Linked DNA regions of Homo sapiens. The protein of the gene in region 3 purifies or fractionates together with the protein of the main gene of each other region. This does not show direct contact. Each region holds a gene or a part of one and is shown on either strand. Other genes may lie near its edges. The genes, in order: ETFA, MTRR and SMS.

The links.
Region 1: the proteins of SMS (region 3) and ETFA purify together in Homo sapiens (affinity purification with mass spectrometry; one large-scale study listed by BioGRID and IntAct). This does not show direct contact.
Region 2: the proteins of SMS (region 3) and MTRR fractionate together in Homo sapiens (co-fractionation; one large-scale study listed by BioGRID). This does not show direct contact.

The regions. Positions count from the first base shown.
Region 1 is NC_000015.10:76,301,313-76,305,044, reverse strand, and holds part of ETFA (electron transfer flavoprotein subunit alpha, mitochondrial), read left to right. Parts: intron 1-3,732. UniProt on the Homo sapiens protein: Heterodimeric electron transfer flavoprotein that accepts electrons from several mitochondrial dehydrogenases, including acyl-CoA dehydrogenases, glutaryl-CoA and sarcosine dehydrogenase.
Region 2 is NC_000005.10:7,889,590-7,893,321, forward strand, and holds part of MTRR (methionine synthase reductase), read left to right. Parts: intron 1-671; coding exon of another isoform or gene 672-779; exon of another isoform or gene 780-823; intron 824-1,782; coding exon 1,783-1,825; intron 1,826-3,137; coding exon 3,138-3,324; intron 3,325-3,732. UniProt on the Homo sapiens protein: Key enzyme in methionine and folate homeostasis responsible for the reactivation of methionine synthase (MTR/MS) activity by catalyzing the reductive methylation of MTR-bound cob(II)alamin.
Region 3 is NC_000023.11:21,978,709-21,982,208, forward strand, and holds part of SMS (spermine synthase), read left to right. Parts: intron 1-168; coding exon 169-258; intron 259-3,500. UniProt on the Homo sapiens protein: Catalyzes the production of spermine from spermidine and decarboxylated S-adenosylmethionine (dcSAM).

The DNA.
Region 1 (3,732 bases), on a different chromosome or scaffold from region 3:
TTTTGAGACAGAGTCTCACTGTTGCCCAGGCTGGAGTGCAGTGGCGCCATCTCGACTCACTGCAGCCTCTGCTGCCTGGGTTCACGCCATTCATCTGCCTCAGCCTCCCAAGTAGCTGGGACTACAGGTGCCCGCCACCACGCCCGGCTAATTTTTGTATTTTTAGTAGAGACGGGGTTTCACCATGTTAGCCAGGATGGTCTCGCTCTCCTGACCTTGTGATCTGCCCGCCTCGGCCTCCCAAAGTGCTGGGATTACAGGTGTGAGCCACCGCTCCTGGCCGAGGATTTTCTTTAGATAAAAACATCACTTCATTTTTTAGTTTTGTCTAAAATCATTTATCATTGCTGTATTTTTTCCCCCAATTTTTTTTTTTTTTTTTTGAAATAGAGTCTTACTCTCACCCAGGCTGGAGTGCAGTGGTGTGATCTTGACTCGCTGCAGCCTCAACCTTCTAGGCTTAAATGATCCTTCCATCTCAGCCTTCCAAGTAGCTGGGGCTACGGGAATGCGCCACCACATCTGACTAATTTTTTAATTTTTATCTTTCATAGAAACAGGGTCTTACTGTATTGTCCAGGCTGGTCTTAAACTCCTGGGCCAATTTTAGGTTTGCAGGGTATCTGTGCAGATTTATTATGAGTAAACCGTGTGTCCTGGGGGTTTGATGTACAGATTATTTTGCCGCCCAGGTAATGAACATAGCATCCAATAGGTAATTTTTTGATTCTCACCCTGCTCCCACCCTCCACCCTCAAATAGGCCCAGGTATCTATTGTTCCCTTCTTTGTATCCATAGGTATTTGATGTTTGGCTGCCACTTACAAGAGAGAACATTCCATGTTTGGTTTTTCTGTTCCTGCATTAATTCACTTAGGATAATGGCCTCCAGCACTGTCCATGTTGCTCTAAAGGACATGATCTCATTCTTTTTAATGGCTGTGTAGTATTCCATGGTGTATATATACCACATTTTCTTTACCCAGTCCATCCCTTGCATGGGCATCTAGGTTGATTCCATGTCTTTGCTACTGTGAATAGTGCTGCCATGAACATGCACATGCATGTATCTTTATGGTAGAATGGTTCATATTCCTTTGGGTATATTCCCAATTATGGTATTGCTGGGTCGAATGTTCTAAGTTCTTTGAGAAATCGCCACATTGCTTTCCGCAGTGGCTGAACTAATTTACATCCTCACCAGCAGTATATAAGCGTTCCTTTTCTCTGCAACCTTGCCAGCATCTGTTGTTTTTTGAGTTTTAAATAATAGCCATTCTGACTGGTGTGAGATGTCTCATTGTGGTTTTTATTTGCATTTCTCTAATGATTAGTTAATGTTGAGCATTTTTTTATATGCTTGTTGGCCACATATGAGAAGTGTCTGTTGATGTCCATTGCCCATTTTTTAATAGGGTTGTTTTTTGCTTGTTGATTTAAGTTCCTTATAGATTCTGGTTATTAGACGTTTGTCAGATGCATAGTTTGCAGATTTTTTTTTACCATTCTGTAGGTTGTCTGTTTACTTTGTTGATAGTTTATTTTGCTGTGCAGAAGCTCTTTAGTTTAATTAGGTCTCACTTGTAAGTTTTTATTTTTGTTGCAATTTCTTTTGGAGTGTTCGTCATGAAATCTTTGCCAGGGTCTATGTTCAAAATGCCATTTCCTATGTTTTCTTCTTGGGTTTTTATAGTTCGAGGTCTTACATTTAAATCATTTTTTGTTTGTTTGTTTTTTGAGATGGAGACTTGCTTTGTCACCCAGGCTGGAGTGCAAGGGTGCAATCTTGGCTCACTGCAACCTCCGCCTCCTGGGTTCAAGCAATTCTCCTGCCGCAGCCTTCGGAAGAGCTGGGATTACAGACTCCTGCCACCACGCCCAGCTAATTTTTGTATTTTTAGTAGAGACAACAGGGTTTCACCATGTTGGCCAGGCTGGTCTCGAACTCCTGACCTTAGGTGATCCACTCGCCTCGGCCTCTCAAAGTGCTGGGATTGCAGGTGTGAGCCACTGCACCTGGCAGAAGTTTTTTTGTTTTGTGTTGTTTTGTTTTTAAGTAGAGTTTGGCCTGTGTGGTAGTACACATCTGTAGTCCTAGCTACTCAGGAGGCTGAGGCAGGAGGATCCCTTGGGCCCAGGAATTGGACGCCAGCCTGGGCAACATAGAAAGACACTGTCTCTAAAAATAAAATTTTTTGAAAATAGACTTTATGTTTTAGAGCAGTTTTAGGTTCACAGCAAAATCCAATGGAAAGTACAGAGAGTCTTCCTGGTCCACACACCCACAACCTCCTCCACTGTCAACATACAGCACCAGAGTTGTCCATTTGTTACAATTAATGAATTTACATTGACATCAGCATTTCCCAGAGTCCATAGTTTACATTAGGATTCACTCTTTGTGTTGTACCTTCTATGGGTTTGGACAAATGGATAATGACAGGTATCTACCATTATTATATCATACAGAATAGTTTCACTGCCCCCGCCCCCACTCCCCCTGGAAAAAACAAAACAACAACAACAAAAAACCTCTATGCTTTGTTCTCCTAATCCCTGGCAGTCACTGATCTTTTTACTGTTTCTATAGTTTTGCGTTTAACAGAGTGTCATATAGTTGGGATTAGACAGCATGTAGCCTTTTCAGACTGTTTTTTTTTTCACTAAGTAATATGCATTCAAGGTTCCTCCATGTCATTCTCATTTCTTGTTACTGCTGAATAAGATTCCATTGTATGAATATTTATTCACTTACTGAAGGACATTTTGGTTGCTTCCAAGTTTTGGCAGTTATGAATAAACCTGCTGTAGACGTCTGGTTTTTGTGTGGACCTAAGTTTTCAACTCATTTGGGTACGTACAAAGGAGTGCAGTTGCTAGATTGTATGGTAAGATTATGTTTAGTTTTATAAGCAACTGCCAAACTGTCTTCCAAAGTGGCTGCACCAGTTTGCATTTTTACCAGCAATGAATGAGAGTTTCTGTTGTTCCACATCCTTACTAGCATTTGGTATTGTCAGTGTTTTGGTTTTTTACCATTCTAATAAGTGTGTAGTGGTATCTCGTTTTAATTTGCAATTTCCTAGTGAGCATCTTGATGTTGAGCATCTTTTCATATGCTTCTTGGCCATCTTCTTTGGTGAGGTACCTGTTCAGATCCTTTCCCCCTATTTAAATCAGATTGTTCATTTTTTATGTTGACTTTTAAGGGTTCTTTATTTTTTTTAGATAAGTCTTTTATCAGATATGTCTTTTGCACATATTTTGTCCCAGTCTATGGCTTGTGTTCTCATTCCTTTGATGAAGAGGTGTTTGTTTTGTTTTGTTTTGTTTTGTTTTGAGATGGAGTCTCTCTCGCCTAGGCTGGAGTGCAGTGGTGTGATCTCGGCTCACTGAAACATCCACCTCCAGGGTTCAAGTGATTCTTGTGCCTTAGCCTCCTGAGTAGCTGGGACTATGGCGTGTGCCACCATGCCCAGCTAATTTTCGTATTTTTAGGAGAAATGGGGTTTCACTCTACTGACCAGGCTGGTCTCGAACTCCTGACTTCAGGTGATCCATCGGCCTCGGCCTCCCAAATTGCTGGGATTACAGGCGTGAGCCACTGCGACTGGCCAACGAAGAGTTCTTTAAAAAAAATGTTCACTTCCCTTATTGGTGTCAGCTCTGTGCTGGATACTGGAGTCTAGGGTTATAGTGGTAAGAAATATCAGACATTGCTCCTGTACTCAG
Region 2 (3,732 bases), on a different chromosome or scaffold from region 3:
CAGAATTGAGCATCTTTTCTAATTTAACTTTTTTCAGAAAGGTTGTTTAGCTAAATGTCTAAAAATGAGCTTCCTATAAAATTTTCTTTTTCAAAGCTAACGAACATCATATTTAATTGAAAGAGGCTGATGCAGTCTGTGCTGTGTGCAGAATGCAGAAATGCCCCCATCTGAGCAAGTCCAGATCGAGGGTCCTTCAAGAGCAAAAGGGGACTGTGTCGTACCAGTGCAAATCAACATACTCATGGTACTGCCAGGCAGAGAACCATCATCCCATTTCAGATGAAGAGTAACCCATTTTTTTGCCCAGAGTGACTCTTCTAGTCCTCATACTCCAACAGAAGAGACCTCAGCATTGTCCCTGAGCAGTCGATGTCCTAGGACCTCTCTGTGGCTCTCAGGAAGGGATTGAAAATGCTTGCTAGGGGTGAAGACTAAGCGCTTTATAGGACTTCAAAGCCTTTATTACTTTCTTGTGCTTGTAACTTTGTCATCTCCTTTCCCATAGTGGTAAGTAGTTATGCCTTTAACATTTGCATTTTTCTTTGGTGACACCAAAATGTATATTGTCCTTTTTACTCTTGGGCCAGCAAGATCCTTTTCGATGCCCAGTACAATTAAAGGCACCCTTCTTTGCAAGTCAGGGCCTGATTTCTCCTCCTTTTTCTTAGTGTTTTTTCCACTTAGGACCTCCCCAAAATGCTAAGACCGTGTTGCTGAATGAGGCTGCTCTTCTCACCATCCTGTCCTCAGGCTGGCCCTCTCACCCTCTTCAGTGAAGTCTTCGAGAACCATCAGCAGGAATAGGATGACAGAACACAGGGTGGGGAGTTCTAAGTAGTATTAGAAAGTTCTCTTATCGCATACTAATTTATTTCAATTCTTTTCGTAGATTTTTTGTTACCTTTTAGAATGTTAGAATGTTTGTAACAATACCACATTACGTAGTTATATAAAAAAATTAAAGTCATTGGGACTTATAAAAAATTATATTATTTTCTAATTAAGAACAATTAAAATATCTAAAGCTTGATATTAAGTTGAACACCCTACTAAACCTTATTTTGATGTTTAAAACTCTACGCCATTATACATAGACCTTTTCATATTTTCAATTAAGTAACTGCTAAAAATAAAACATACCAAAACATAAAACATTTCAAAGTTTATTAGTGGATAGTTCAATATTTAAATACAGATTATTTAACCTGCTTTTGAAAGAATACCTACGTATTTTGAAATCACTGATTTTTTTTGATAAATTTTTAAAAACCAAACACTTTAATTATTTTAAATGTAAGATGGAAAATATTTCAAGCCTAAGCATTTTCAGTAATTCTTGAAAGAGTAGCCTTTAATCTTTTTGGGATCATGACTTTATTTTAAATCTGAAAACTGGGCACCTCCCTGCAGAAAACTGCGCACCTCCCTGCAGAAAACTGCACATATACCTAGTAAGGGTTTGCTGAGCTCCTCACCTCTGAAGCCAACTTATGGACCCATTCCTAGAAGCCTTTGCTTTTAAAATTCGCCTTTGGGTAGAAATACTGATTTAAGAGTAAGAAAATGCATCTTATCTGGTTTTTAACTTTAGGAGTTGAAAGAAAAAATAGTAATATTTTACTTGAACACAAAGTTCAAGTGCTTAACTATGATTTAAAACTAGAACATGATTTGAGTATTCTAAATAAGACATGGAATTTTTTTTTTTTTTTTTTTTTTTAGGTAAGGTTATTTTCAGTAGTAGTGAATTAATAATTGCTTGTTTTTATTTTTTTCTAGAACATCTTCCTAAACTTCAACCCAGACCATATTCGTGTGCAAGGTACTACTATTTATTCACGTAATATATAGCATTGTTTCTCCAAAATCTTAGACTCAGGCTTCCAGATCATTAGAGTTTACTAATTTATTCAGTGAAAACTTACCTGCTTTATGGAAGACAGTACCAGGCATAATAAAGCAGAAGAAGAATCATAGAGCTCCTGTCCTCTGGGACTTCATAGAATTTAACATCTTGGGTGGCTTCCCATGGCCCAGTACTATGTTTCCCCACTTAGGAGTCTCAGGCTCCTCCACATGCTTCCTGTGTCCGTGTGCCCAGCCACCTTCACTGAGTGGCAGCCGGAGGCAGGGGAGACAGAAAAGTTCCACTATAAAACATTTGATGAGTCCGGGCGTGGTGACTCACTCCTGTAATCCCAGCACTTTGGGAGGCCGAGGCGGGCGGATCATGAGGTCAGGAGATCAAGACCATCCTGGCTAACACGGTGAAACCCCGTCTCTACTAAAAATACAAAAAATTAGCCGGGCGTGGTGGCAGGCGCCTGTAGTCCCAGCTACTTGGGAGGCTGAGGTGGGAGAATGGCGTGAACCCGGGAGGCGGAGCTTGCAGTGAGCCAAGATCGAGCCACTGCACTCCAGCCTGGGCGACAGTGATACCCTGTCTCAAAAAAATAAAAAAAAAGAATATTTGATGAGCACTGGCTTATAGGATTCTCCCTGTGGCCTTCATTCCATTGCACAGCCTCTACCGTTTTCCCGTCTGGCTCTCTGTTTTGCCTTTCAGTAATAATACAAGAAGGTGCACCATTCTTTTGGTTGAAAGGGGAATTAAGAATGAACTCAAGTTCTTTCGCATTATTTACCGTGTAATGTGAAAAGAAATCTACTTTTGTAGGGATGTCTTTTAAAGATGTTTTTACTTTGAATTTTTAGTTTTCTCCTTTCTGGGTGTATACTTCAGTCACTTTCAAGTTTTATGATCTTACCAGTAGATAATGTATGGATATTTGTTAGAATTTATCCCCATTTCTTCACATCTTTATAATAAATATTGAGTGAATGAATCCTTTACATGAAGATCCTTAGGGCATATTAGATTTTATAAATATCATCTAGTCCTAGTGCAAGCAAATAAAATTGGAAACTTTCTTGAATAACAAAATGTAGGGTGTGAGAGTGTGAAGGTTGGGGGCAGTTTTTAATTACGTAATAATGGCTTTCCTCTGTGAGGATTTGGAAGGTAGATTAGAGCCTATAAGGAAATATTTCTAAACTGAATAAAAGGATTGGTTTGACCCATATGTGTAGTAGTACTGATATCGAGTTCAAAACTTGTCTGTGTATCTTTGCAGCTCAAGTTTATTTCACCCAGGAAAGCTCCATTTTGTCTTCAACATTGTGGAATTTCTGTCTACTGCCACAACAGAGGTTCTGCGGAAGGGAGTATGTACAGGCTGGCTGGCCTTGTTGGTTGCTTCAGTTCTTCAGCCAAACATACATGCATCCCATGAAGACAGCGGGAAAGCCCTGGCTCCTAAGGTAAGAAATTAGTACCTTAACCTCAGCATTGTTAACTCATACTCTTTGTTTCATTAGAAAAAACAGTGTTGTCTCACCCACATCATTCATTACTGTCATAAGAAAATTTATGCTGTTCTTGAATTTTAAAATCTCTATTGCAAGAGCAGAAAACTGTTTACTTCCATGTACTCTTTAACTAGTGTGTGTATTTTCTGAATGTATAAAGCATGAATTTTATATAGTACGGTCTTTGCTTGTCCTATTCATGGAAAAGAAGACCTTTTATGTTGATATTCTTGGTACATTGGCCTGGGGAGGGGTGGAGAACTGTCTAGGAAGTATTTAAGGGGGGTGATGAGAGACAGTCTCATTTTATGTTTAAGATGTATACTGCCTCTCAAATAAGTAGTTTTACATTGGGAGTCT
Region 3 (3,500 bases):
GAGTGTCCTTAGTGTGAAAATAAAGTCACTGCCTCATTCATCATTTTGTTAAATTTGTGATACCCAAGTTAGTATTATAAAACCTTTGTTTGTCTTAATCCTTTCTTTAAAGTATTACTATTTCAGAATTCTTTGATATACCCAAATTCTCCTTAACCTGTTGCGGACATTGACCAAATGGTGATTGATGGGTGTAAGAAATACATGCGAAAAACGTGTGGCGATGTCTTAGACAATCTTAAAGGAGACTGCTATCAGGTAATTGTTTTCTGGATAATGTAGTTTTAAGTGAACTAATAATATAAGTTATTGATCAGAATTGTGCCTTATTAAAACAGCTTTTAGTATAGTTGGTTGAGAAGATAAATACATCATCTGTCTCTTCATATGAGTTATATGTATATTTGTATTTAGGGTGCACACGTACCAATGATGGGAAAGCACCAACTCCAGATTCTCTGAATTAAATAAAATTAATTCTTTTTTTTTTTATTATACTTTCAGTTCTACGGTACATGTGCAGAATGTACAGGTTTGTTACATAGGTATACACGTGCCATGGTGGTTTGCTGCACCTATGAACCCATCATCTAGGTTTTAAGCCCTGCATGCGTTAGGTATTTCTCCTAATGCTATCCTTCCCCTAGCCCCCTACCCCCGATCGGCCCCGGTGTGTGATGTTCCCCTCCCTGTGTCCATGTGTTCTCATTGTTCAGCTTACACTTAGGAGTGAGAACATGCGGTGTTTGGTTTTCTGTTCTTGTGTTAGTTTGCTGAGAATGATGGTTTCCAGCTTCATCCATGTCCTTGCAGAGGACATGAACTCATTCTTTTTTATGGCTGCATAGTATTCCATGGCATATATGTGCCACATTTTCTTTATCCAGCCTATCCTTAATGGGCATTTGGGTTGGTTCCAAGTCTTTGCTATTGTGAATAGTGCCGCAATAAATATACGTGTGCATGTGTCTTTATAGTAGAATGACTTATAATCCTTTGTATGTATACCCAGTAATGTGATCGCTGGGTCAAATGGTATTTCTAGTCCTAGATCCTTGAGGAATCGCTACGCTGTCTTCTACAATGGTTGAACTAATTTACACTCCCACCAACAGTATAAAAGTGTTCCTATTTCTCCTCATCCTCTCCAGCATCTGTTGCTTCCTGACTTTTTAATGATGGCCATTCTAACTCCAGCTTGGGCTGCAGAGCGAGAATGTCTCAAAAAAAAAAAAAAATCTTAATAAAAAAAAAAACCTTAATAATAATAATAAAAAAGAAACCTTAGTAGTAAAAATCAAGTAGTACACAAAGCTAAAGATTGCTTTTACATATGTACAAAATTTCCAAGTAAAATAATAAGCTAAATCTGGCAAATTAAGTCTATATTATGCTCAAGTAGGATTTAGTTAGAAGTGTAAAGATTTCAATTTTAAGAAATCTGTCAACTTAATTCGTTAGGTGAATAATTTAAAGGAGGAAAATAACAGATGACAAAGAATTTGAGAATATTTAGCAGTCATTTTAAATAAAAACTAATGCAGTATAGCCATGTAAAATTAGCCAGGTGTGGCGGCGTGTGCCTGTAATTCCAGCTACATGGAAGGCTGAGGCAGGAGAATCGCTTGAACCCGGAAGGTGGAGGTTGCAGTGAGCTGAGATTGCACCACTGCACTCCAGCCTGGGCAACAGAGGGAGACTGTCTCCAAAAAAAAAAAAAAATATATATATATATATATATATATTTCCATCTAACAAATCTGTACATGTACTTCCTGAATCTAAAATAAAAGTTAAATTATAAATTACTTGAATAAAATAAAATTGCAATAGAGATGAAACTACCTGAACGTTAATAGAAACTTAGGTTGTGGTAAATAGAAAAATAGAAAATATAATAGATAGCAAAAGCCATTTCCACTGAAAATAGGAAGAAGATGAGGATGCCTATTATCTTTTTCAACATTATTTTTTGAGGTAGCTGAGATAGTAAAGTAGATGAAAACAGTATAAATCTAATTATTTGTAGATGATGTGAATACTAGAAAATCCAGGAAACTTACGTAGGAAATTATTTGAATTAATGAGAATTTGATAAAGTGATTGGATAAAGCCAGCCTAGATTTTTTCTCTATACTAAATGCTAACTCATTTAAATAGGATTTCCTTCCCACCCATTTCCTTTCAAAGTAATCAAGTGTTAAATTCCTAGGAATATATTTAACAAGAATGGTATTGTGAGACTGGTATGAATTATGTTAAGATGTTATTGAAAGACATCAAAGTCTGAATATGTGGAGAGGCATGCTGTATTTCTTGTATTGAAAGAACAGGCCGGGCTTGGTGGCTCACCTGTAATCCCAGCACTTTGGGAGGCCGAGGTGGGTGGATCACTTGAAGTCAGGAGTTGGAGAACAGCCTGGTCAACATGGTGAAATCCTGTCTCTACTAAAAATACAAAAATTAGCCCGACGTGGTGGTGGGTGCTTATAATCCAGCTACTCTGGAGGCTGAGGCAGGAGAATTGCTTGAACCCGGGAGGTGGAGGTTGCAGTGAGCCAAGATTGCACCACTGCACTCCAGCCTGGGTGGCAGAGCAAGACTCCGTCTCAAAAAAAAAAAGGAACAATGTCTATTCTTCCCAATTTATTATGAGTAATCCCAAGGAGGGGGGAGGGGTTTAAAAGTAGACCAACTGATTTTGAAGTTGATTTGTAAAAATAAGTATCTAAGAATACCCAAGAAAACTTGAAAAAAGAATCATAGTGTGAAGCGAAATATGTCCTATTTGTTGTTAATGTACTATAAGGCACGATAATCAAATAGGAAGTATGAAAGGAATACACAAGGACCTAGGAATGTCAAAGGAACTTGAACAGGTCTGAGTATGTATTCCTACACACTGCTAATATGGTCTAAGATACATTTCAGTTGACTTGGGAAAAGCGTTAGTTGAGTTAGTGTGTGATGCCGGTATAAGAAGTTATCCATCTGCATGAGAACCAAGTTAGCTAACAATAGAAATAGGAATTTTGGTGACTTAGGCTCTAAATGTAAAAACTAATACATTTAAGACAATTTAGAGTACTTAACCTTGGAGTTCAGAAATCTCTTAAAGATAGGACACTCAAACTGTTAATGGTATTATAATGTTGTCATTACCAAGCCAAAAGTCAGACTAGAAGAAAGACTAGTAACAAGCATGACAGGGAATTGATCCCTTGAATAATGCAGAGTCCCTACAACTTAGAAATGAAGTTAGCTAAATTTAAAAAGGTATAGAGGATATTTACTGGTACTTCTCAGAATAAGTCAAATAACCTGTAAAAAGTACCACAAGACAGGCCGGGCGCGGTGGCTCACACCTGTAATCCCAGCACTTTGGGAGGCTGAGGTGGGCGGATCACGAGGTCAGGAGATCGAGACCATCCTGGCTAACATAGTGAAACCCCGTCTCCACTAAAAAAATACAAAAAAAAATTAGCTGGGCGTGGTGGCGG